Regions from separate parts of the Homo sapiens genome. Here all the other regions are linked to region 1. Evidence: fine-mapped expression QTL. Tissue or cell type: whole blood. Region 1 holds a variant in brackets; each other region holds the start of a gene. All regions are shown on one strand. Distances are from middle to middle.

Region 1 (8,101 bases):
TATGCTTTGTACAACTCTACAGACCGTATGTAGGTATTACTGTTTTTGTTTTTTGTTTTTACAAAAAAGGAAAAAAGTACATCTCCTGGAAGGGATGCTTTTTAGCTGAGCTCTGGTGGATGAGAGGAGCTAGCCTTGAAAAAGTGAGTAGGGGCTGAGAGTGGGGCTGTATTTCAGACGTAGGGAACTGGAGGAGTAGAGGCAAGGCAATTGATAGGAGTGCTCCCCGAGTTTTCCAGGAACTGGGCAGAAGCAGTCAGACCACTCTGGTTAAATGAGGGAAGGGGAAGAGTGGTCCAGAGTGAGGCTGAAGAGGTCAGTAGGTCTGAGTCAGGGGAGCCCAGGAGCGTCATTTTCTTTTTTGTTTTGTTTTGTTTTTTTGTTTTTGAGACGGAGTCTCACTCTGTAGCCCAGGCTGGAGTGCAATGGCGTGATTTCAGCTCACTGCAACCTCTGCCTCCCAGGCTCACGTGATTCTCCCTCCTCAGCCTCCCAAGTAACTGGGATTACAGGCGCCCACCACGACACCCAGATAATTTTTGTATTTTTATTAGAGACAGGGTTTCACCATGTTGGCCAGACTGGTCTTGAACTCCTGACCTCAGGCGATCCACCCGCCTCGGCCTCCCAAAGTGCTGGGATTACAGGCGTGAGCCACGGTGCCTGGCCAGGAGCATCATTTGCTAGCGTAGCATGGCCCCACTGTGCCGGGGTGGTCTGAGGTGTGTGCAGGAGGGGAAAGGGAAAGGTGAAGGGGCTCAGGGCCTCAGGGCTCTTCCTTTGGACAGTGGGGGATTGTTAAAGAATCCCAATCCCTGTTCTCCAGCCCTGCACGTCCTTCAGTCCCTCAGCGTTACACTTGAGTGGGCTCACTCAGTGAGCAGGAGTTTGCTATAAAGTTGCCAGATGTCTTGGAAAACCAGTTGATCTCTGGGACCAACAATTGCCTATCAAGCCTGTTCATTCGATTCTCAAATATTATTAAGCACTTACCATGATGGGCTCTATTCCAGGAACCGGAAATTTACGAGTGAACAAATGAGACCAAGGTCGTGTTTCCACGGGCTTACATTCTAGTCAGGGAGAGAGACAAGAAACAAATGTACTGTATAAATAACCCATGGCGTGCCGGGCGCTGTGGCTCATGCATGTAATCTCAGCAATTCAGGAGGCTGAGGCAGGAGAATCACTTGAGGCCAGGAGTTCGAGACCAGCCAGGGCAACATTGAGACCTTATCTCTACAAAAATAAAAAACTTAGCCAGGCCTGCACCTGTTAAGTGACAGCTAATTGGGAGGCTGAGGCAAGAGAATCACTTGAGCCCAGGAGTTCAAGGCTATGGTGAGTTATGATGGCACCACTGCATTCCAGCCTGGGCAACAGAGTGAGACCCTGTCTCTAAAAAAGTAAACAAATATGCCATAGTAATAAGTACTGTAAAGAGGAATAAAACAAGTGCTATTTTATTTTATTTTTAAATTTTTGTATTTTTTGTAGAGTTGGGGTTTTGCAGTGTTGCCCAGGCTGGTCTTGAACTCCTGAGCTCAAGCAATCCACCCACCTCGGCCTCCGAAAGTGCTGGGATACAGGCATGAACCGCTGCGCCCAGTCCAAAAGTGAGTGCTATTTTAGACAGTCTAGTCAGGGAGGGCTGCTCTGAGGAGGTGATATTTGAGCAGAGACCATAAGAAACTTGCCTGGTGTTTATTCCGTATCTCTTGCATTTAGCTTGATACTGATGGACATTGTGTGGGCCAGAGGCAGGGATGGTTGGCTATGACCCCAAACCAGATGGCAGGAATAACACCAAGTTCCAGGTGGCAGTGGCTGGGTCTGTGTCTGGACTTGTTACTCGGGCGCTGATCAGTCCCTTCGACGTCATCAAGATCCGTTTCCAGGTACTCTTCCCCTTTTTCCATGCAATGGACTGGAGGACAAGTTCAGTCTTTCTTGCAAAAGCAGTTCCTAAAACTTGGAATTCTATCCAGATGAAGGGCTTGCCTTTTCTGAAAGTTCCCCTTCACATTCCAGCCCACCCCACTGTCCTGACCTTTTTTATTTTGATTCCTAGCTTCAGCATGAGCGCCTGTCTCGCAGTGACCCCAGCGCAAAGTACCATGGCATCCTCCAGGCCTCTAGGCAGATTCTGCAGGAGGAGGGTCCGACAGCTTTCTGGAAAGGACACGTCCCAGCTCAGATTCTCTCCATAGGCTATGGAGCTGTCCAAGTAGGTGGCAAGGGACCTGGCCAGACCTCTGGGGTCACGTTGCTCAGTGGAGGAGCAGAGGGAGGGTGAGGCAAGCAGGAATGCCGCGCAGGGCAGGACGGAAGAGGCAGGCCCCACGCTTCCCACCTGCCTCACCCGGGAGCCTTCCTGACCAGCAGTACCGTAGGCATTGCCCTCCGCCATGTCCCTGCGTCTATCCTGTGTGACTTAGGTGTTGCATCTTGGAGACCGATTTGATGTCATGCCTTCTGTGAGGCTTGGCGAAGGACAGCACTAATGCATTTCAGTTTTTGAAATACCACCTTCACATATGTGGTTCATCTGAACTTCACCACACCGTCATGAGGAGGGCAGGGTAGCTGTCATGTGGATCTCAGGGAGGAGAAGTCAGCTGTCCGAGGCCACACAGCCTGCACATGGCGGGGCTAGGGTTAGAACTCATGCTTCGTTCAGTGGAGCACTAGTATAGTCATAGTGCACAGCATGTGATTTTATGCAGTAGATGTGTTTAAGAACCAGCCCTGTACAGTGCAAACCATGGGCCAGGCCCCTGTTGGAAGCACTTCACATACACTCTGTCACAGCAGTCCTTAAGGTAGGGGCTGTTGTCCCTCCCATGTCATGCATGAGAAGACTGAGGTGGACAGAGCTTACATAATTAACCCAACCAAAGCCACTGGCTAGAAAATGGCAGAGCCACGACCCCCACCTAGGCAGCTAGTGCCAGAGATGTCCCTTCCTACTCTTCCTGTGACATCACAGTGACCGCCCAAGTCAGGTGCTTACTGGCTGGGCATGCCCTGCGATCCTGTCTCTGCACTTGTCTGCAAACAGATATTGCAGCATGACGAATAAATACAGCAACAGGATAGTCTCAAGAAGCCAGGCGTGGGCTGGACTCAGTGGCTCACACCTGTAATCCCAGCATCTGAGCCCGGGAGGCGGAGGCTGCAGTGAGCCACGATCATGCCACTGCACTTCAGCCTGGGCAACACAGCCAGACCCTGTCTCAAAAAAAGAAAAGAAGCCAGGCCATCTTCAGTTGGCTGAAGGAAGATCTGAGCATAGCCCTGGTATAGTGGCTCACACCTGTAATCCCATCACTTTGGGAGGCTGAGGTGGGAGGATGGCTTGAGCTCAGGAGTTTGAGACCAGCCTGGGCAACATTAGGGAGACCTCCTCTCTACTAAAAATAAAAAATAAATTAGCCAGATATGGTGGTACACACCTGTCGTCCCAGCTATTCCAGAGGCAGGAGAATAATTTGAGCTAGAGAAGTCAAGGCTGCTGTGAACTGTGATCGAGCCACTGCACTCCAGCCTGGGCAACTGAGCACGACCTTGCCTCAAAAAGCAAAACAGGGCCAAGCTCGGTGGCTCATGTGTGTAATCTCAGCCCTTTGGGAGCCCAAGGCGGGCAGATTGCTTGAGCTCAGGAGTTTGAGACCAGCCTTGGCAACATAGTGAAACCCTGGTTCTACAAAAAATACCAAAATTAGCTGGACATGGTGGCATGCGCCTGTAATCCCAGCTACTTGAGGAGCT[G/T]AGGTGAGAGGATCACTGGAGCCCAGGAGGTTGAGGCTGCAGTGAGCCGTGTTTGTGCCACTGTACTCCAGCCTGGGTGACAGAGAGACACTCTTGTCCCTAAAAAAAAAAAAAAAAAAAAAAAAAGAAAGATCTGAATGTAAGGGGGTCACCCTGTGGAACATGCTCCCAAAAGAATCTGCCCCAGAAAAGAATGATTCTCGAACAGTGCCGCCACCAGGTGCCGCCGCCAGCTGCACTGAAGGGGTCCCTGCAGGAATCAGAGCATGGCCGTCTTCCCCAGTTCTCAGAAAACTAAGTTAGCCAGTGACATTTTCTGATATACATTGTTCTCATGTATCTTTTTTATTTTTTCTTGAGACAGAGTCTCACTCTGTTGCCCAGGCTGGAGTGCAGTGGCGCAATCTCAGCTCACTGCAACCTCCGCCTCCTGGGTTCAGGCGATTCTTCTGCCTCAGCCTCCCAAGTAGCTGGGGTTACAGGCCCACGCCACCATGCCTGGCTAATTTTTGTATTTTTAGTAGAGACAGGGTTCCACCATATTGGCCAGGCTGGTCTCCAACTCCTGACCTCATGATCTGCCCACCTCGGCCTTCCAAAGTGCTGGGATTACAGGCGTGGGCCACTGCACCCAGTCTTTTTTTTGAGACCGAGTCTTGCTCTGTCGCCCGGGCTGGAGAGCGCAGTGGCATGATCTTGGCTCAGTGCAGCTCTGCCTCCCGGGTTCAAGTGATTCTCCTGCCTCAGCCCCCCAAGTACCTGGGACTACAGGTGCCCGCCACCATGCCTGACTAATTTTTGTATTTTTAGTAAAGACAGGGTTTCACTATGTTGACCCGGCTGGTCTCGAACTTGTGACCTCGTGATCTGCCCGCCTCGGCCCCCCAGAGTGCTGGGATTACAAGTGTGAGCCACTGCACCTGGCCCCCATATATCTTCTTAACCCTTTGAGTGTCTGACTCTACTCAAGTATCAAATGGCATCCGAGTTTTGCGTAGAATGTTGTATTTATCATATGCTGTCACTGCTCAAGAAGAACATTTCCTGACCTTTTCCTCGCCCCTCCACCTGGGCCCCAGCCGGGTCACGGGTGATGTATTTGGGGAGTATTTGGTCCTCACCCTCATCCTTTGGGCTGTCGGTGACTTCTTCACTTACTCTTGCAGTTCTTGTCATTTGAAATGCTGACGGAGCTGGTCCACAGAGGCAGCGTGTATGACGCCCGGGAATTCTCAGTGCACTTTGTATGTGGTGGCCTGGCTGCCTGTATGGCCACCCTCACTGTGCACCCCGTGGATGTTCTGCGCACCCGCTTTGCAGCTCAGGGTGAGCCCAAGGTGAGTGGCCAGGAGCCAGACCGGGGAAGCCCAAATAAGGAAGGTGTTGTCACAGGGGTAGCATTCTTTATTTTTTATTTATTTATTTATTTATTTTTGTTTTGTTCTGTTTTGTTTTGTTTGAGACAGAATCTCGCTCTGTCATGCAGGCTGGAGTGCAGTGGTGCGATCTTGGCTTACTGCAAGCTCCACCTCCCGAGTTCAAGCGATTCTCCTGCCTCAGCCTCCCGAGTAGCTGGGATTACAGGCACCCGCCACCACGCCTGGCTAATTTTTTTTGTATTTTTAGTAGAGACGGGGTTTCACCATGTTAGCCAGGATGGTCTCGATCTCCTGACCTCACGATCCGCCCGCCTCGGCCTCCCAAAGTGCTAGGATTACAGGCATGAGCCACTGCGCCCGGCCTATTTTTTATTTATTTATTTATTTATTTTGAGACAGAGTCTCGCTCTGTTGCCAGGCTGGAGTGCAGTGGTGCGATCTATTTTTTTCTTTTATTTGATAAGCATGTTTTTTTTAAATATATGATTTTTATTTTTATTTTTATTTTTAGTTATTTATTTATTTTTTTTGAGACAGAGTCTCACTCTGTCGCCCGGGCTGGAGTGCAGTGGCACAGTCTCGGCTACTGCAAGCTCCGCCTCCTGGGTTCACGCCATTCTCCCTCCTCAGCCTCCCGAGTAGCTGGGACTACAGGTGCCCGCCACCACGCCCAGCTAATTTTTTGTATTTTTAGTAGAGACAGGGTTTCACCAGTCACAGGATGGTCTCGATCTCCTGACCTCGTGATCCGCCTGCCTCGGCCTCCCAAAGTACTGGGATTACAGGCGTGAGCCACCGTGCCCGACCTATTTTTATTTTTATTTTTTTCAAGAGACGGAGTCTCGCTCTTATTGCCCAGGCTGGAATGCAATGGCCAGATCTCGGCTCACTGCAACCTCTGCCTCCTGATTTCAAGCAGTTCTCCTGCCTCCGCCTCCCAGTAGCTGGGATTACAGGCGCCTGCCATCATGCCCAGCTATTTTTTGTACTTTTAGTAGAGACAGAGTTTCGCCATGTTAGCAGGCTGGTCTTGAACTCCTGATCTCAGGTGATCCACCCGCCTCGGCCTCCCAAAGTGCTAGGATTACAGGCGTGAGCCACCGCACCTGGCCTATATATATATTTTTTGAGACAGTGTCTTGTTTTGTTGCCTAGGCTGCAGTGCAGTGGCATGATCACTGCTCACTGAAGCCTCGACCTCCTGGGATCAAGTGATCCTTCTGCCTCAGCCTCCCCGGTAGCTGAGACTACACCTGGCTGAGTTTTGTATTTTTTTAGAGACGGGGTTTCGTCATGTTGCCCAGTCTGGTCTTGAACTCTTGAGCTCAAGCCGTCTGCCCGCCTCGGCCTCCCAAAATGCTGGGATTACAGGCATGAGCCACCGCACTCGGCAGAGGTTGAGTTCTTGTCCTTGCAGAAAGCAAAGCTGGGAGAGGTTCGGGTTTTCAGTTTGTCTGGCAGTCAGTTTGTAAAACCCATGACTGTGGGCAGCACTGTGCGGGGTGCTCTATGTCCCTGCCTCAAAGGAGCTCACAGCCTCCCTGGAAGACAGAACCTACTGCTATGAAACAGAACAAATAATTACCCAGCAGTGGGCTGGATCAAGGACTGCCCACTTGAGAATTTATTGCTGGATTATTATGAGAGCGTCTTTGTTTTTTTGTTTGTTTGGTTGGTTGGTTTTTTGAGACAGTCTCACTTTGTTGCTCAGGCTAGAGTGCAGTGGCGCAATCTCAGCTCACTGTAACCTCTGCCTCCTGGGTTCAAGCGATTCTCCTGTCTCAGCCTCCTGAGTAGCTGGGATTACAGGCACGTGATGCCATGTCCGGCTAATTTTTATATTTTTCGTAGAGACAGGGTTTCACCATGTCGGCCAGGCTGGTCTCAAACTCTTGACTTCAGGTGATCCCCTGGCCTCTGTCTCCCAAAGTGCTGGGATTCCAGGCATGAGCCACCACGCCCGGCCAATTGCGAGTGTCTTTGGTTTCCACAAAGAATGGGCTGGTGGAAATGGGATAGACTCGAGGAAGAATTTACTGAGTGAAAACAAGGGATTAAATCCTGAAATAGACCTCCCCACCATGATCTCTGTTTCCTGGACATATTTAAGAATAGCATCATATGTATGTGTGTCTGTGTGTTCTCAACCAAGAAAGAATAATTTTATTGTTATTATTTATATATATTTTTTGAGACAGGGTCTTGATCTGTCACCCAGGCTGGAGTACAATGGCTGCAATAGCTTGCTGCAGCTTCGAACTCCTGGGCTCAAGCAATCTTCCTGCCTCAACCTCTCAAGTAGCTAAGACCACAGGTGTGTGCCATCACACCTGACTAATTTTTTATTTTTTTATTTTTTGTAGGGGCAGGGTCTCATTATGTTGCTCAGGCTCAGGCTGGTCTTGAACTCCTGGTTTTTTTTTTTTTTTTTGGTTGTTGTTTGTTTGTTTTTGAGACGGAGTATGGCTCTGTCGCCCAGTCTGGAGGCACAATCTCAGCTCACTGTGACCGCCTCCCAGATTCAAGTGATTCTCATGCCTCAGCCTCCCAAGCAGCTGGGACTACAGGTCCGCTACCATGCCCAGCTAATTTTTTTTTCAGATGAAGTCTCACTCTGTCGCTGAGGCTGCAAGCTCCACCCCCAGTTTTAAGTGATTCTCCCGCCTCAGCCTCCCAAGTAGTTGGGATTACAGGCGCCCACCACCGCGCCTGGCTAATTTTTGTATTTTTAGTAGAGACGGGGTTTTGCCATGTTGGCCAGGCTGGTCTTGAACTCCTGACCTTGTGATCCACCCATCTCTGCCTCCCAAAGTGCTAAGATTACAGGCGTGAGCCACCGCGCCTGGCCATGCCTGGCTAATTTTTATATTTTTAGTAGAGATGGGATTTTGACATGTTGGCCAGGCTGGTCTGGAACTGCTGGCCTCAAGTGATCCGCCCACCTGAGCCTC
Region 2 (8,094 bases), 170 kb after region 1:
TTGGGAGGCCGAGGCGGGCAGATCACGAGGTCAGGAGATTGAGCCCATCCTGGCTAACACGGTGAAACCCCGTCTCTACTAAAAGTACAAAAAATTAGCCGGGCCTGGTGGGGGGGCGCCTGTAATCCCAGCTACTTGGGAGGCTGAGGCAGGAGAATGGCGTGAACCCGGGAGGCGGAGCTTGCAGTGAGCCGAGATCGCGCCACTGCACTCCAGCCTGGGCGACAGAGCAAGACTCCATCTCAAAAAAAAAAATAAATAAATAAAAAGTATTTTTAAAAATGTGTTAGTTGGGCCAGGTGTGGTGGCTCACGACTGTAACCCCAGCACTTTGGGAGGCTGAGGCGGGCGGATCACCTGAGGTCAGGAGTTTGAGACCAGCCTGGCCAACACGGTGAAACCCCGTCTCTACTAAAAACACAAAAATTAGCCGGGCGTGGTGGCGGGCGCCTATAATCCCATACCCGGGAGGCTGAAGCAGGAGAACTGTCTGAACCCAGGAGGCAGAGGTTGCAGTGAGCTGAGATTGCACCACCGCATTCCAGCCTGGGCGACAGAGCAAGACTCCATCTCAAAAAATAAAATAAAATAAAATAAAATAAAATAAAAAATGTGTTATTTGATCCTATCAAGACATTCAACCCAATTTCTGGATTATAGGAAATAAAGGGGATAAAGAAACCACAAAGAGGCAATGAGACAAACCGGAAGGGGGAACATTTGCATTCCTGGTTGGGGCCTTCGAGAATCAGTGTTATGAAATGAGGGTCTGTTTAGGGTTACAAGGGATTTATTTCTTGGGGCCAGGAGTTCGAGACCAGTCTGGGCAACACAGTGAGATCCTGTCACAACAAAAAATTAAAAAAAAAAAAAATTAGCTGGGCATGGTGGTGCACACCTGTAGTCACAGCTACTCGGGAGGCTAAGGCAGGAAGACTGCTTGAGCCCAGGAGTTCAAGTTTATGGTGAGCTATGATCACACCACTGCACTCCAGCCTAAGTGACAGAGTGAGACCCTATCTCAAAAAAAAAAAAAAAAAAAAGAAAAAGAGAATAAAAAGAGAGATTTAAGATAATTTATGTAGTGACTTCCTTCCAATGGGTATCATACGTAAAGAGGGGAAAGAAAGAGTAATTTTACAGTGGAGAAGCCTGACAAGACTTCAGCCAGGTGACTACGCGCGTGTTGGCCAGGCTGCAGTGCAGTGGCTATTCACAGGTGCAATCGTGCAATCACAGCACACGACAGCCTCAAATTCCTGGGCTCAAGCGATCCTCTTGAGTATCTGGGACTACAGGTGGGCACTGCATTGCTTGAAAAAGGAATTTTTGTTTGTTCTCAAAATTTTGTTTGCTTCAAACTATTTCCCACGGCCTAGATCTAAACTCCTGCAAGCTCTGGTGCCACTGAACTCTCTAAACTCTTTTTGTGCCATTCTCCACTTCACTGCAACGATCCTCCCACATCAGCCTTCCGTCTGGCTCCTTCCTGTTTTAAGGCCTTTGCCCATGCTGTGTCCCGGCTAAAATGCCTTTCTCATGATGGCCAAAACTGAAGTAACCCCCACCTTCCACTGCTGTCTCTCATCACCCCATTTACTTCCTTCTGAGCATCATCTTTTTTGTTTGCTAACCACCTGTCCCCCCTACTAGAATGTAAGCTCCTGAGGGGCAAAGACCTTTCCCTAAGCTGTTCACCATACTCCAGCATTTAGAGCAGTAGCTTGCATATACGGTACACGCGCAATAAATATCTACCCAGTGAATAACTCAATAGGTCTTAAGATCATAACAACTACAGAAGCCATAAGTTACAGACTGCAAGCCATCTCTGCTTCTCTTGATATGAAAACACTAAATATGAGTTATTTTTGTTTTTGAGACAGATTCTCGTTTTGTCACCCAGGCTGGAGTACAGTGGCCCAATCCCAGCTCACTGCAGCCTTGACCTCCCAGGCTTAAGCAATCCTCCCACCTCAGCCTCCTGAGTAGCTGGGACACCACGCCAGACTAATTTTTTTTTTTTTTTTTTTAAAGCAGAGATGGGGTTTTGTCATGTTGCCCAGGCTGGTCTTGAACTCCGGAACTCAAGTGATCTCCCTGCTTCGGCCTCACAAAGTGCTGAGATTAAAGGTGTGAGCCACCTCACCCGCCTGAAATTGCTTTTTTTTTTGAGACAGAGTCTCACTGTTGCCCAGGCTGGGGTGCGGTGGTGCCATCTTGGCTCACTACAACCTCTGCCTACCGGGTTCAAGCGATTCTCCTGCCTCAGCCTCCCAAGTAGCTGGGATTACAGGCGCCCACCACCATGCCCGGCTAATTTTTGTATTTTTAGTTAGAGATGGGGTTTCACCATGTTGGCCAGGCTGATCTTGAACTCCTGACCTCAGGTGATCCGCCCACCTCAGCCTCCCAAAGTGCTGGTGCTGGTATTACAGGTGTGTGCCACCGCGCCCGGCTACAAAACTGCTCTTTTTAAAACATATTTTTTTGAGACATGGTCTCACTCTGTCGCCCAGGCTGGAGTGCAGTAGCACAATCTCAGCTCACTTCGGCCTCTGCCTCCCAGACTCAAGCAATACCTCCTGCTTCAGTCTCCAGAGTAGCTGGGCCTACAGGTGCACACCACTGTGTGCGGCTTTTTTTTTTTTTTTTTTTTTTTTGAGACGGGGTCTCACTCTTGTCCCCGAGGCTGTGGTGCAGTGGCACGATCTCAGCTCACTGCAACATTTGCCTCCTGGGTTCAAGCTTCTCCTGCCTCAGGCTCACTAGTAGCTGGGATTACAGGCACTCTCCACCACGTCTAGCTAATTTTTGTACGAGACGGGGTTTCGCCATGTGGGCCAGGCTGGTCTCGAACTCATGACCTCAGGTGATCCGCCCGCCTTAGCTTCCCAAACTGCTGGGATTACAGGTGTGAGCCACCACGCCCGGCCCCAAGGACTCACTTCTAATTCACTTATCTCACCCTGGCCCATTTAGGCATCTAGGGAACGGGCCCCGCCCTTACCAATAGCAAACTCCACCAGGGTCTCATTCTCCTCCGACAGCGAATCGAGAAATAAATCCAGGACCTGCAGCTGCCGCAGATACTCGTAGTTGCTGGGGTCATAAGCGAAGTTGGCGAGGTTGGCGAGGACTTGCTCCTTGGCGTCTGCAACGGGAAAGCGGCACTGAAGCCAGGTCCGGGCGGCGGTCACAGCGGACCCTGCCACCTGATCCCACCGTGGCTCTCACCTTGGCTTTGGGTCTCCTGGAATTCCGTGACCAGCGCCTGCAGGTATCCCAGCCGCCCGACGTGGGGGTCCACCTTCGGCTTCTGGGCCATGGCCGCGGTGACGGAGGACCCCCAGGGACGGGCGGGAGGGTGGGAAAGGTGCAGGGGGAAAGCCGAGCGAGACCCTCACCCGCTCTCCACCTGTCTGGAGAGGGAAGAGGGGGTCGGCAAATGGGTTTCTTTCCTGGGTTCAGATTCTGCAGTAATTTGCAGCTGGAAATGGGATATGGGAGATGGGACGGGGTCTCAGAATCCTGTAGGAGTTGCGTTTGAAAATCGAAATTGGGGCGCGGGAGACAGGGAACCGTCTACTGGTTGGGGCTCGCGGAGGGGGCACTGGCGCACCGTCCCCGGCTCCTGGGCTCGGTTCCGGGCTCCCGGCGGAAGCCGCGCTGTCCCTACCCCCGAAGGGGCGGGGCCGTCGCCGAACTCCTTGGCGCGCGTGCGCGGCGCGCTTCTGGTTTTCTGGATGCCGAAGCTCTTTAGCCTGTGCTGGAACCAGCGGCGAGCGGCTTCGCTGAGGCAGGTGCAGGCGTGGGTGGGTGTACTGCGAGGAGCAGCCTGGCCTCCCGTATCCCATGTCCAGATGCAAATTACTGCAAAATCTGAACGCAAGAAAGAAACCCACTTGCCGCCCCCGCCAACAGATGGGCGAGTGAGGGCCTCGCTCGGCTTTCCCGCCCCACCTTTCCCACTCTCCCGCCGGTCCCCCGGGGTCCTCCGCCGTCCCGACATGGCCCAGAAGCCGAAAATGAGACACCCATGTCGGGTGGCTGGAATTCCGCCAGGAGCAACTCAGGAGCGCAGCAGAGTCTGGCAGCACCCATGTTGGAGGACGTCGAGGCAGAAGCACCTCCAGGGTCCCCACGGCTGGCGGGGGCGCGGCCCATCCTCCTTGACCAGGACGCCCCTTTGGAGCGCGGGCGTCAGCTCCTTACGCCCCCCATCAGTCCTTTGCCCCTTTTGCAAAAAGCCTAGCGACCCCGACCCGCCCTCCATCCCAGCCCCGAGGTGGGTCCGCCACCTCTGGACAGAAATCAAAGGGTACTGGGTCATGTCCTGGTGCTTTTTGTCAGCCGGGTGGATGGCGCGCGCCCGGGGCAGCACGGGGGAGCCCGAGGAGGAGCCTTGATTGTGGCGCTTTCGGGGCTTTCTGGATGCTGAAGCCCTTCGGCCGATTCCTTCTCGGAGATTATCAGGAAGCGGGTGTGTGATAGATTGCTCGTGGTTACAGGAAACAAAGCACCAGGGAAGGAGGTGGTCTAGCCACACTCCCATCGCATTTGACAACGTAGGGGTAGAGGTGGCTTAGGCTGTGAGTGTCCTGAGAGTGCAAAAGTTGTTAATCTAAATGGAGTCACTTGTGTTAAAAAACAGAACAAAAAAACCCGGACACAGCCCAAGAAACCCATGACAAGAGGGTTCTCGTGCATAAATACCTGATAATGAAAACTATCACAAAGACTCTGCAAAAACCACAACCTTGCACAAAGGGCGTCACAACCTTGCACAAAACATACTTTTGAATGGCCATCTGCCCAGCAACCGCTTGTCCAACCTTGAGCGGTCACCCTTGTTATTAATCCTTCTACCTAAGGATAAATATTTCAAAACAATTATGTAATCCTATTTTTTCCCTTAAAGCCTGTCTTCCTTTACCTCCCTGAATACCCATATAGTTTACTATGGCATGGATACTACCATTGCAATGCCCTATGCCCAAATAGATATCATTTTCTTTGAGAGAGCCTCTCTGTTATTTAGGCTGACAAAGGCAAGGACCATTATCTTAAGCCCTGGGCCCGGATGAAGGCAGAGTGGCCGTCACACTCCAGCCAGCTGCAGCCCCATTGGAAGCAGGCCTCACCTCTGAGGTTTCAGGTCCTTGTGGTCAGCCCCTGCCCTATGTACACCCTCTGAGGCAGGAGTTTCTAACTTAGTCTGGGTACCTAGGCCCCAGGACCCTCACCAAAGCCCTTTGGCTTCTCTTGGGAGCCTCTGCAGCCTGGGAAGTGCATCTTACCCCTAGGTGCCCAAGGGGTTTCTCTGCCTCTTGCTGGACAGAGCAGCAAATAGGAGCCCAGAAACAGGGAGGATGGAAGTAAGCTCCATCCCTCCCTGCCCAGGAACTGCCCCAGACCTTCTCTAGAGGTTCGCAGGCAATCAGCTAGATGGGGATTGCTGAATCAGATGGGCCACCCCATCTTCCCTCATTGGTCTTCTCCCTTTTTTTCTTTTTGAGATGGAGTCTCGCTCTGTCGCCAGGCTGGAGTACAGTGGTGCGATCTCGGCTCACTACAACCTCCGCCTCAGATTCAAGTGATTCTCCTGCCTCAGCCTCCCGAGTAGCTGGGATTACAGGCACGCACCACTGCACCCAGCTAATTTTTGTATTTTTTTTCTGAGACAGTGTCTCGCTCTGTCACCCGGGTTGGAGTGCAGTGGTGCGATCTCAGCTCACTGGAAGCTCCGCCTCCCAGGTTCACGCCATTCTCCTGCCTCAGCCTCCTGAATAGCTGGGACTACAGGCACCCGCCACGACGCCCGGCTAATGTTTGTATTTTTAATAGAGACGAGGTTTCACCGTGTTAGCCAGGATGGTCTCGATCTCCTGACCTCGTGATCCACCCGCCTTGGCCTCCCAAAGTGCTGGGATTACAGGCGTGAGCCACTGCGCCCGGCCTAATTTTTGTATTTTTAGCAGAGATGGGGTTTCACCTTGTTGGCCAGGATGGTCTCGATATCTTGACCTCGTGATCCACCTGTCTCAGCCTCCCAAAGTGCTGGGATTACAGGCATGAGCCACCGCACCCAGCCAGTCTTCTCCCTTCTTAAGGCCTCAGGGAGGGGCCCTCCTTGGGGTGGAATTCTCAGCCCTTGGTAGGTCTTACCTCTGCCCAGTCTCTGGCACACAGTAGATACTCAGTAAATATTTATTGAAGGAATTCTGCCCAGAGATGATTGCTATTCTTGCCTAGGAGCAGGTGAGATGAAAGTTTCCTATGCAGAACATTCATTGATACCTTTTTTTTTTTTGGGAAGGGGGGACAAGGTCTCTGTCACCCAGGCTGGAGTGCAGTGGTGTGATCACAGCTTACTGCAACCTTGAGCTTCTTGGCTCAAGGGATCCTCCCACCTCTGCCTCCTGAGTGGCTTGGACTACAGGCCTGTGCCACCATGTCCAGCTAAGTTTTAAATTTTTTGTAGAGATGGAGGTCTCCTTATGTGGCCCAGGGTGGCCTCTCAAGTGATTCTCCCATCTTGGCCTTCCAAAGTGTTGGGATTACAGGCATGATCCACCACACTTGGCTTTTTTTTTTTCCCTTTCCTTAATTTTTCTGTAGAGACAGGGTCTCTATGTTGCCCAGGCTGGTCTTGAAGTCCTGGTCTCAAGCGATCCTCCTGCTCTGACCTCCCAAAGTGTTTTTTTTGTTTGTTTGTTTTTTGAGACGAGTCTCATTCCATCACCCAGGCTGTAGTGCAGTGGCGTGATCCCAGCTCACCACAACCTCTTCCTCTCCAGTTCAAGCAAATTTCCTGCCTCAGCCTCCCAAGTAGCTGGGATTACAGGCGACTGCTACCACGCCTGGCTAATTTTTGTATTTTTAGTAGAGCTGGGGTTTTGCCATGTTGGCCAGGCTGGTCTTGAACTCCTGACCTCTAGTGACCCACCCATCTTGGCCTCTCAAAGTGCTGGGATTACAGGCGTGAGCCACCACACCCAGCCTTTTTTTTTTTTTTTTTTTTAAAAAAAAGACAGGGTCTTGCTGTGTTGCCCAGGCTGGCCTCAAACTCCCAGGTTTGAGTGATCCTCCCACCTCAACCTCCCGAGTAGCTGGGATTACATGTGCGCACTGCCATCTCCAGCTGATATCTTTTTTCTTTAAATGTTTTCAGGAAGTGGGCTCATTACGGGATGCACACAAAACCTGGTGGATACTAGCACCAAAAGCACCTATCTACCAGCCCCACCTCCCTCCTTTTCCATTCAACTGAGATGGAGCAGACAGGATTTGGCAAAGTCCATGCAAGCACTCTCCCTTCAGAGCATGTGGTATTGATGGCAGCCAAGTGTAAGACTGGGTGGGGAGCCAGAAGGAAATGGAGTCGTCAGGATGCTCACCGAGTCAGACTTTTCAACCGGAAGAGACTAGCTCATCCAAACCAACCTCCTACGTTTTCTTTTTTAAAATTAAATTTTATTATTTTGCTCTAACAAAGTAACCTCCTACTTTTTCAAGGCTCAGAGGTGGTCAACAATTTGCCCAACTCACATGGCAGATAGTGGCGGAGTCAAACAGGGCACTCAGGTAGGGCTATTCCAGCCCAGAGCCGTTTGCTTGGCCTGCAGTACCGCCTTTGGCCATAAGAGCCACTCATGGCTGGTCCTGGAGGAGGCAGGACATCCCCAAAGATGCTTATTGACGCCAGCTGGACGTGGCTGGCGGGAAGACTGGCACCTGTTCATGAAAATAAAATCTCCTGATAAGGTTTTCTTGCGGAGCCTGGTTGAGCCTGAATCAACAAACAACATCCTGAACCTGAGCACCCCTTGCTGAGCTAGGAGGAAAGGAAGGGTGAGGGGAAACGTACTCCAGCTCTGTTTGTCAGCTTCATTAGTTCACAGAGTTTATGACCTGCTGCAGGGAACATTTTTGTGTGTAATTCAAACACATTCTGTTTTATCATTCCCTCGGTACCCTGCTGGGACAAGAATGGGCTGATGACAGCCAGCCCCTGGGTGGTGACTTCAGGGAAAGGCACCAGCAAGATGTGTGTGTGGGGAGCTTGGACCGCCAGTCACAGGCACAGGTGTA
Region 3 (8,094 bases), 240 kb after region 1:
TTTTCTCCAACATAAATTAGTCAAACGCCAGGGTATGTTCTGCTCACTCCATTTCAACCCTCCTTTCCCTACCTGGCACCTGCCCATTAGCTGCAGGACACTTTTCCCATATGTCACTTAGTTCCTGGAACTAGTCATGTTGGACACCTCCTGAACTTGATATTTTTGTCCAATCTGCCCTCAAAAGGACTGGGGGTGGGGGTGGAGGTGTGTGTACAAATTTATGTGGGCCAAACTTAATAGGATGCTAATCATTTGAACAATATAAAAGGCAACCATTTAAAGACTTGCATGCTAAATGAACTCAAAGGCCTTAGGGCAACTATGAGACGTGTGATCCTATAGGAATAAATTTGCTATAAAGGCCATTATTAGGACAACTGACAAAACTGCAATATAAGCTGTAGATAAAAGCATCAGTATTAAATTTCCTGAGTTTGATAACTGTACTGTCTGTGGTTACATAAAACAGTATCCTTGTTCTTGGGAAATATATACAAATATTAAGGGGTGAAATCTGCAATCTATTCTCAAATAGTTCAGAAATAACTGTGGTGGGAGAGGCAAGAGGATGGGGGTAGGGAGGGGGAAATAGAGAATGAAGGACAATGCAAATATGATTTAAAAAAAAAAAAGGTCGGGCATGGTGGCTCACGCCTGTAATCGCAGCATTTCGGGAGGCCAAGGCGGGTGGATCACGAGGTCAGGAGTTCAAGACCAGCCTGACCAACATGGTGAAACCCCCGTCTCTACCAAAAATAAAAAAATTAGCCAGGCGTGGTGGCATGCACCTGTAATCCCAGGTACTCAGGAGGCTGAGGCAGGAAAATCGCTTGAACCCGGGAGGTGGATGTCGCAGTGAGCTGTGATAGTGCCATTGCACTCCAGCCTGGGCAACAGAGGGAGACTCTGTCGCCAAAAAAAAAAAAAAAAAAAAAAAAGGTCGGGCGCGGTGGCTCATGTCTGTAATCCCAGTACTTTGGGAGGCTGAGGCAGGCAGATCACAAGGTCAGGAGATCGAGATGAGACCATCCTGGCTAATATGGTGAAACCCTGTCTCTACTAAAAATACAAAAAATTAACTGGGTGTGGTGGTGGGCGCCTATAGTCCCAGCTACTCGGGAGGCTGAGGCAGGAGAATGACGTGAACCTGGGAGGTGGAGCTTGCAGTGAGCCGAGATTGCGCCACTGCACTCCAGCCTGGGCAACAGAGCAAGACTCCGTCTCAAAAAAAAAAAAAAAGCTGGGCATGATGGCTCATGCCTATAATCGCAGCTACTCAGGAGGCTGAGGCAGGAGGAGCATGTGAGGCCAGACATTTGAGACCAGCCTGGGCAAGATAAGATAGACTCTGACTCTTAAAAAAACAACAAAAAGATCTCCCCATACCCCAAATATGACAAAAATAACATTGAAAATTGGTTAATCTGGGATATAGGGAGTTCTCTGTGTTATTCTTGCTCTTTTCTTGCTTATTTTGAAGTTTTAAATTACTTCAAAATAAAGTTTTTTTAATTAAAGGCATTAGAAAAGATACTTAACTAAAAGAGGGTAATTGAATTTTTGTATCACAAAGGATAAATGCTTGAGGGGATGGATACCCCATTCTCCATGATGTGCTTATTTCACACTGCATGCCTATATCCAAACATCTCAGGTCGGGCGCGGAGGCTCAGGCCTGTAATCCCAGCACTCTGGGAGGCTGAGGCAGGTGGATCACTTGAGGTTAGGAGTTCAAGACCAGCCTGGTCAACATGGTGAAACCCTGTCTCTACTAAAAATACAAAAAATTAGTCAAGCATGGTGGTGCACGCCTGTAATCCCAGCTACTTGGGAGGCTGAGGCAGGAGAATCGCTTGAACCCAGGAGGCTGAGGTTGCAGTGAGTCAAGATTGTGCCAGTGCACTCCAGCCTGAGCGAAGAAAAAAAAAAGAAAAATCTCATGTACCCCATAAATATATACACCTACTAGGTACTTACAAAAATTAAAAAAGAAAAATAAATAAGATTAAGATCACCCATGAGTTGGTAATTGTTGAAGCTGGATAGTGGATGCAAGGAATTCACTGTATGTACTATTCCCATTACTTCTGTATGCGTTTGAAATATTGTTTAAAAAGGGACATTTAAAAAAAGAGAGAGAGAGCAATTCCTCTTTCTACTAGCTGAAACAGAGTTGTTTCACAGTCACTTCATTAACTAGTACAGCCATTACAAGCTTTCTTACTCAGAGCCAAAGCTCCCAGATCAGGGTGCCCTGGATTTAGGGACAGTCCCCTTTACAACTGAATGCCTTCAGTGGGACCATGCCAAGCCTTGTAGAAAGTGGACTAGACCCACTTATAGTCCCAATGCCCTACAAACCACAAAGATGAGGCAAGTAATGATACACCTGACAATGAACTAGAGAATGAATTAGGTCAGCTGCAAACATTTACAGGGAAGCATGAGGCCAGAGTCTTAAAAGAAATGAGGCCAAGCCTTTATTATTTTTGTACAACTGTGAGTTCAAACCAAAATTAAAACTATAAATAATTGAATGTCAGAGATGTCTTGCTTCTTCAGACTACAGACACTCACTGCTAGCACACAAACAAATGTAAAAAAAGGATCGTGACAATTCTGGAGATTCGGAAAGAACTCCTGAAGTTATCTGCAAAGCGGAGCTACCTATCTTCCTTCTCACCCAGGAAGCTGAACAAAGCCTAAGGAGGCTTCCTTAATCATGACTCCCTCAGACAAGACTGGTAGTTTCTGCTCTGTTTCATAAACCTGAAACTATACCTGCACATGCGCCTGATGAAAATGTCAAACAAAATTGAAATCTGTAAAACAACTTTAAAGATTCTACTTGCATTTTGAAAATCCCCAATGCAAACAGTGCGCTTACCTTCTTCTGCCAACTCCTTAGTGATGATGAGTTTCCCGTGGCGGAGGTAGTTGAGGATAGGACCAAAGTAGGTGGGGTCCCTGTCAATCAGATAGGCTCCTGTCTCATCCTGCCAACCAAACACAAGGGTATCATTGTGGACCTTTGAGGAGTATTTTAAACAAAGGCAGGGCAGGATTTCACCATCTTTGTCAGCGCCCCAAGACAACAATTCATTCCATCAGCTAAAAAAGACTTTAGTGATGGCAAATTTTGTTACACATTTGTCACAAACTATTGGTAAGAAAGCTATAGCTTTATGTATCTTGTACATTAAGATCATCTTAGGTAGGGTGTTACAGACAGTCATACTCATTTAGGCGTTTACTTACTGGCTGGAATTTGCAATCTTTGCCTGGACAATAATTACAGTGACAAACATTCTTCTGTAGCGTGTTTGTTATTAAGAAAGGGAGAAAATGCCGTAGCTGTGTAACTGAAATCTTTGCTTGAGATGGACATTCTGACTTTTCCACTGCCTCTGAACTGCATTCCTAATTCCAAGAAAACCTCTGTGTAGTTGGCAATGCTCCTGAGCTCAAGGCCAACATCAGTGGGAGTTTGCACTGCCAGCTGTAATCTCACACACCCCAGCTCTGTGCCCAGAGGAAGCTCGGTACTGCCAGGACTTGGCTCTGAGCAGCTTTAATCCTACTCATCTTTACAGTAAAAGGAACAAGAAGAAACTGGCTTCTATTACCACAAGGAGGATATAGAGTAGATAAAAATAATTCCTTTATAAGCAAGGGTTTTGAAATCTCTTTAAAGTTAGGGCAGGATAGGTTTCCATCAATCTGAGATTTCTTAGAGAAGAGGAATAAACGAAAACAACAAATGTTTACGCAACTCCAGCTCTGTTTTGAGGTCACCAGCTGAGTGCTATATGGGATATAAGATGGTGTGAGTTATGGTCAGTGCCTTTAAGTTGAGAACTTAAAGGTGAATACGTAAAGTTAAAAAGAAATTGACACAGTTCAAACTGGAAATGGTTTAAGTGTCTTGTCACCTCTCAACCCTTTGGTTAGCAGCCATGCATCCTGCCCAAAATTTTCCCGGGAAAATTTTCATTTTCCTTCTGTCTTAGCCTAGATTTGCAGCGGCAAACAGTAACCTCTTTCCAAAAAACGCATTTGATCTAAATATGGACCTAAACCAGTGACTGTTAACAGATAAAAGTTCTGCGACCAGGACTATAGAAAAGCAGTGTGATATCACAAGGAGCGCTTCCTGCAGCTGTGGAAGCCCAACTTGGCAGAGGGGTCCGAGAGGGAGTCTGAGAAAGCTACAAGGATGCCTGAGCTAACCCTGACCCAGTTCTGGATGCATCTGGCACCGGCAGTGGGGGGACTGAAGAGGAGCCAGGGAAAACTCATGCAGATCTCAGTGGGATGTCAGGGGCAGAGAATATGGAGAAGGGGTGTGGAGTGCGTTCTCGTGGGTGCAGGTGGGCGCAGTGTGGGAAGGAGTCTCAGAGAACGAAGGGCGGGGTCGGGGAGAAAGCCAGAGTATGCCTCAGCATGGAAGAAGGGGAGTGGGAGGTCCCTCTGAGGCCCCTGCGAGTAGTGTGGGAGGGAGGGGGAGGATGGGGTCCCGGCCTGAGGGGGCTGCCTGTGAGGAGCGTGTCTCAGGACTCTGGGGACCGATCTACGAGAAACCAGGGGGTTCGAAGGCCCGGGGGCGCGCCCGAGGGCGGGGCACACCTTGTCTGAGTCCAGCTCCGGGTCCTCCTGGCAGCAGAGGCGGCAGAGAAATGACTTGGGCTCCCGGCCTAAGGTCTGTCTGGTGGTCACGAAGTAGGTGCCTCCCACGTTCAGCCTGACCCAGCGGGCCGCGCCGCCGCCCCCTGCCCGCTCGGGTGGTCCGGGACCCGGCTCCAGCGGCTGCGCGACGGCGGCAGCCGGGCGGCCGTGCCCGCGGGGCGTGGGGCCAGCCGGGCGTGGGCTGGGGGGCCCGCGGACTGGGCCACCCCCGTCGCCCACCCCACTCCCGCCGCCCCCTCCCAGCCCCGCCATCGCCGGGTCCAGCTGCAGTTCCGCCATCTTGGACCGCCGCCGCCACCGCTGCTGCCCGCGCGCAGCCGGGCCGGCCCATTTCTCGGCAGGGAGAGCCGGGCCGGCCCATCGGCGGGGGTGGGGCAGAGGGGAGAGGGACGGGAGCGCCCCCAACCAGCGCCCGGGGACCCGCGCGGGGGAGGCGCTGTGCCCGCCCCCGGGAAGATACTTCCGGAACCAGCCCTCATCTCTATTGGCTGATCTGCGAAGCAAGGCCCACCCCCTTGGCTTTGGGGTTGGCTGAGGAAAGATCTTCCCGTGACCCACTTCCGTTACTTGCTGCGGAGGACCGTGGGCAGCCAGGGTCGGTGAAGGTGAGTGGGGCTTGGGGCATTGGATCCGATCCCTGGAGGGCTCCTCTGCTCTGCCCTCTCCAAACCTCACGCCGACCCTTGTCACGCCCCCGTCAAGGACGCTGGGCCCTCGGCTTGCCCCGCTGGCAGAGTGTCCCTTGTGTAGCTGCCGCTCCTCGCCCCGCGATCCCTTCCTCAGCCCTCCTTGGCGCGCGGGGTCAGGGGGGCCCGGCTGTGTCCCAGGCGCCGCTGATGTAGGCGCTGCCACAAGCCGTGTCTCGTGCAGTCCGCTCCCAGCGCGGCAGACTTCAATAGTTTGGTGGGGGGACTGGGGAAACATTACGCAGACAGTGTTAACCTGCCGAGGGACGCTCAGCTGGCTGCGGGGCTGCGCCCTTCCCCTTCGGCAGCTTCCAGGATTCGAACGTATAGAGCGTTCAGGGCTCCTCGGGTGCAGAGTTCGGTTACTCATTCAAGAAAGATTCATTGAGCACCTCCTATGCGCATGATCTGTTCTAGGCGCTGGGGATTAAGCAATAGATTTTTAAGAATTAAAAAAAATTTCGCCGGGCGCGGTGGCTCACGCCTGTAATCCCAGAATTTTAGGAGGCCAAGGCGGGCGAATCGCGAGGTCAGGAGTTCGAGACCAGCCTGGCCAACGTAGTGAAACCCCGCCTCTACTAAAAATACAAAAAATTAGCTGGGCGTGGTGGAAGGCCCCTATAATCCCAGCTGCTCGGGAGGCTGAGGCAGGAGAATCGCTTGAACCCGGGAGGCGGAGGTTGCAGTGAGCCGAGACCACGCCACTACACTCCAGCCCAGGCGACAGTGCGAGACTCCGTCTCACTCACACACACACACAAAGTTATTTGTGACTTCCATTTTCCACTGATGTTGCGGGAAATCAGGGACCCCAAACAGAGAGACCGGCTGAAACCATGGCAGAAGAACGTGGATTGTGAAGATTTTATGGACATTTATTAGTTCCCCAAATTAATACTTTTGTAATTTCTTATGCCTGTCTTTACTGCAATCTCTAAACATAAATTGTAGAGATTTCATGGACACTTATCACTTCCCCAGTCAATACTCTTCTGATTTCCTATGCCTGTCTTGTCTTTAATCTCTTAATCCTGTCAGTTGAGGATGTATATCGTTCCAGGACCCTGTAATAATTGTGTTAACTACAAAAATTGTACAGCATGTGTGTTTGAGCAATATGAAATGTGGGCACCCTGAAAAAAGAACAGGATAACAGCAATTGTTCAGGGAACAAGAGAGAACCTTAAACTCTGACCGCCGGTGAGCCGGGCAGAACAGAGCCATATTTCTCTTCCTTCAAAAGCAAATGGGAGAAATATCGCTGAATTCTTTTTCTCAGCATGGGATATCCCTGAGAAAGAGAATGCGCACCTAGGGGTAGGTCTCTGAACTGGCCCCCCTGGGGCGTACCTGTCTCTTATGGTTGAGACTGCAGGGGTGAAATAAACTCCAGTCTCCCATAGCGATCCCAGGCTTATTAGGAAAAGGAAATTCCCACCTAATAAATTTTGGTCAGACCGGTTGATCTGAAAACCCTGTCTCCTGATAAGATGTTATCAATGACAATGGTGCCCAAAACTTCATTAGCAATTTTAATTTCGCTCTGGTCCTGTGGTCTTGTGATCTCACCCTGCCTCCACTTGCCTTGTGATATTCTATTACCCTGTTAAGTACTTGATGTCTGTCACCCACACCTATTCGTATACTCCCTCCCCTTTTGAAACTCCCTAATAAAAACTTGCTGGTTTTTGTGGCTTGTGGGGCATCACGGATCCTACCAACGTGTGATGTCTCCCCCGGACGCCCAGCTTTAAAATTTCTCTCTTTTGTACTCTGTCAAGCCAGTCGACGCTTAGGAAAATAGAAAAGAACCTATGTGACTATCGGGGCAAGTTCCCCGATACACTGATGTTTGGGAAAGTCTGTAAGGGTGCTTGGTTCCCTGGTAACTTTAAAATCACATGCCAATTGCCTTAACACCTCCCCTCCACAACAGGAAACAGGCTGTCCTGAGAAAGAAAGGAAGGACAGGACAGGTGTTTGACAACTTTCTTGAAGATCCTGAGAAAGACTGCTTCCGCCTCCCTTGCATTCCACTCCAAGCTTATAGAGATTTTTGACTTTGCAGTCTTTTAATATCTGACCCTGATCTTACTTAAAGAGGACTATTTTCCTATATTCTGACTTTTTTTTTAAGTGGCTGTAGTCGTTTTCTGTATTTTTCTCACATTTTCACATGTGTTGAATACCTCTTAAAATGCAGGCCGGGCGCGGTGGCTCATGCCTGTAATTCCAGCACTTTGCAAGGCTGAGGTGGGTGGATCACCTGAGGTCTGGAGTTTCAGCCCATCCTGGCCAACGTGGAGAAACCCTGTCTCTACTAAAAATACAAAAATTAGGGCCGGGCGCGGTGGCTCACGCCTATAATCCCAGCACTTTGGGAGGCCGAGGCGGGTGGATCATGAGGTCAGGAGATCGAGACCATCCTGGCTAACAAGGTGAAACCCCGTCTCTACTAAAAATACAAAAAATTAGCCGGGCGCGGTGGCGGGCGCCTGTAGTCCCAGCTACTCGGGAGGCTGAGGCAGGAGAATGGCGTGAACCCGGGAAGCGGAGTTTGCAGTGAGCCGAGATTGCGCCACTGCAGTCCGCAGTCCGGCCTGGGCGACAGAGCGAGACTCCGTCTCAAAAAAAAAAAAAAAAATACAAAAATTAGCTGGGTGTGGTGGTGGGTGCCTGTAATCCCAGCTACTCCGGAGGCTGAGGCAGGAGAATCGCT

What was found. PIP is the estimated chance that this variant, and not a neighbour inherited with it, causes the effect.
Region 2: it holds the start of ARMC7, and the variant in region 1 is fine-mapped to the expression of ARMC7 in whole blood (TOPMed, PIP above 0.99).
Region 3: KCTD2 starts here. The variant in region 1 is fine-mapped to the expression of KCTD2 in whole blood (TOPMed, PIP above 0.99).

The regions. Positions count from the first base shown.
Region 1 is chr17:75,280,430-75,288,530 of GRCh38, reverse strand. It overlaps SLC25A19 (solute carrier family 25 member 19), which reads left to right. Exons shown (of 8, transcript NM_001126121.2): 2 at 1-29; 3 at 1,729-1,898; 4 at 2,072-2,227; 5 at 4,938-5,108. The coding sequence starts at 1,767. Among named protein-coding and RNA genes, the nearest start is that of SLC25A19, 5.0 kb to the left of the region's middle. The variant G/T (reference allele first, on the strand shown) is at 3,772.
Region 2 is chr17:75,105,523-75,113,616 of GRCh38, reverse strand. It overlaps ARMC7 (armadillo repeat containing 7), which reads right to left and starts at 3,648. Exons shown (of 3, transcript NM_024585.4): 1 at 3,238-3,648; 2 at 3,011-3,154. The coding sequence starts at 3,328. It overlaps SLC16A5 (solute carrier family 16 member 5), which reads right to left. Exons shown (of 7, transcript NM_004695.4): 7 at 7,455-7,737. The coding sequence ends at 7,584. RefSeq lists a silencer at 3,578-3,657 and an enhancer at 7,927-8,094.
Region 3 is chr17:75,044,125-75,052,218 of GRCh38, reverse strand. KCTD2 (potassium channel tetramerization domain containing 2) reads right to left here and starts at 4,994. Exons shown (of 6, transcript NM_015353.3): 1 at 4,630-4,994; 2 at 2,891-2,999. The coding sequence starts at 4,968. It overlaps ATP5PD (ATP synthase peripheral stalk subunit d), which reads left to right and starts at 5,250. Exons shown (of 6, transcript NM_006356.3): 1 at 5,250-5,294. RefSeq lists enhancers at 5,011-5,305, 5,190-5,775, 5,714-5,783 and a silencer at 4,884-5,313.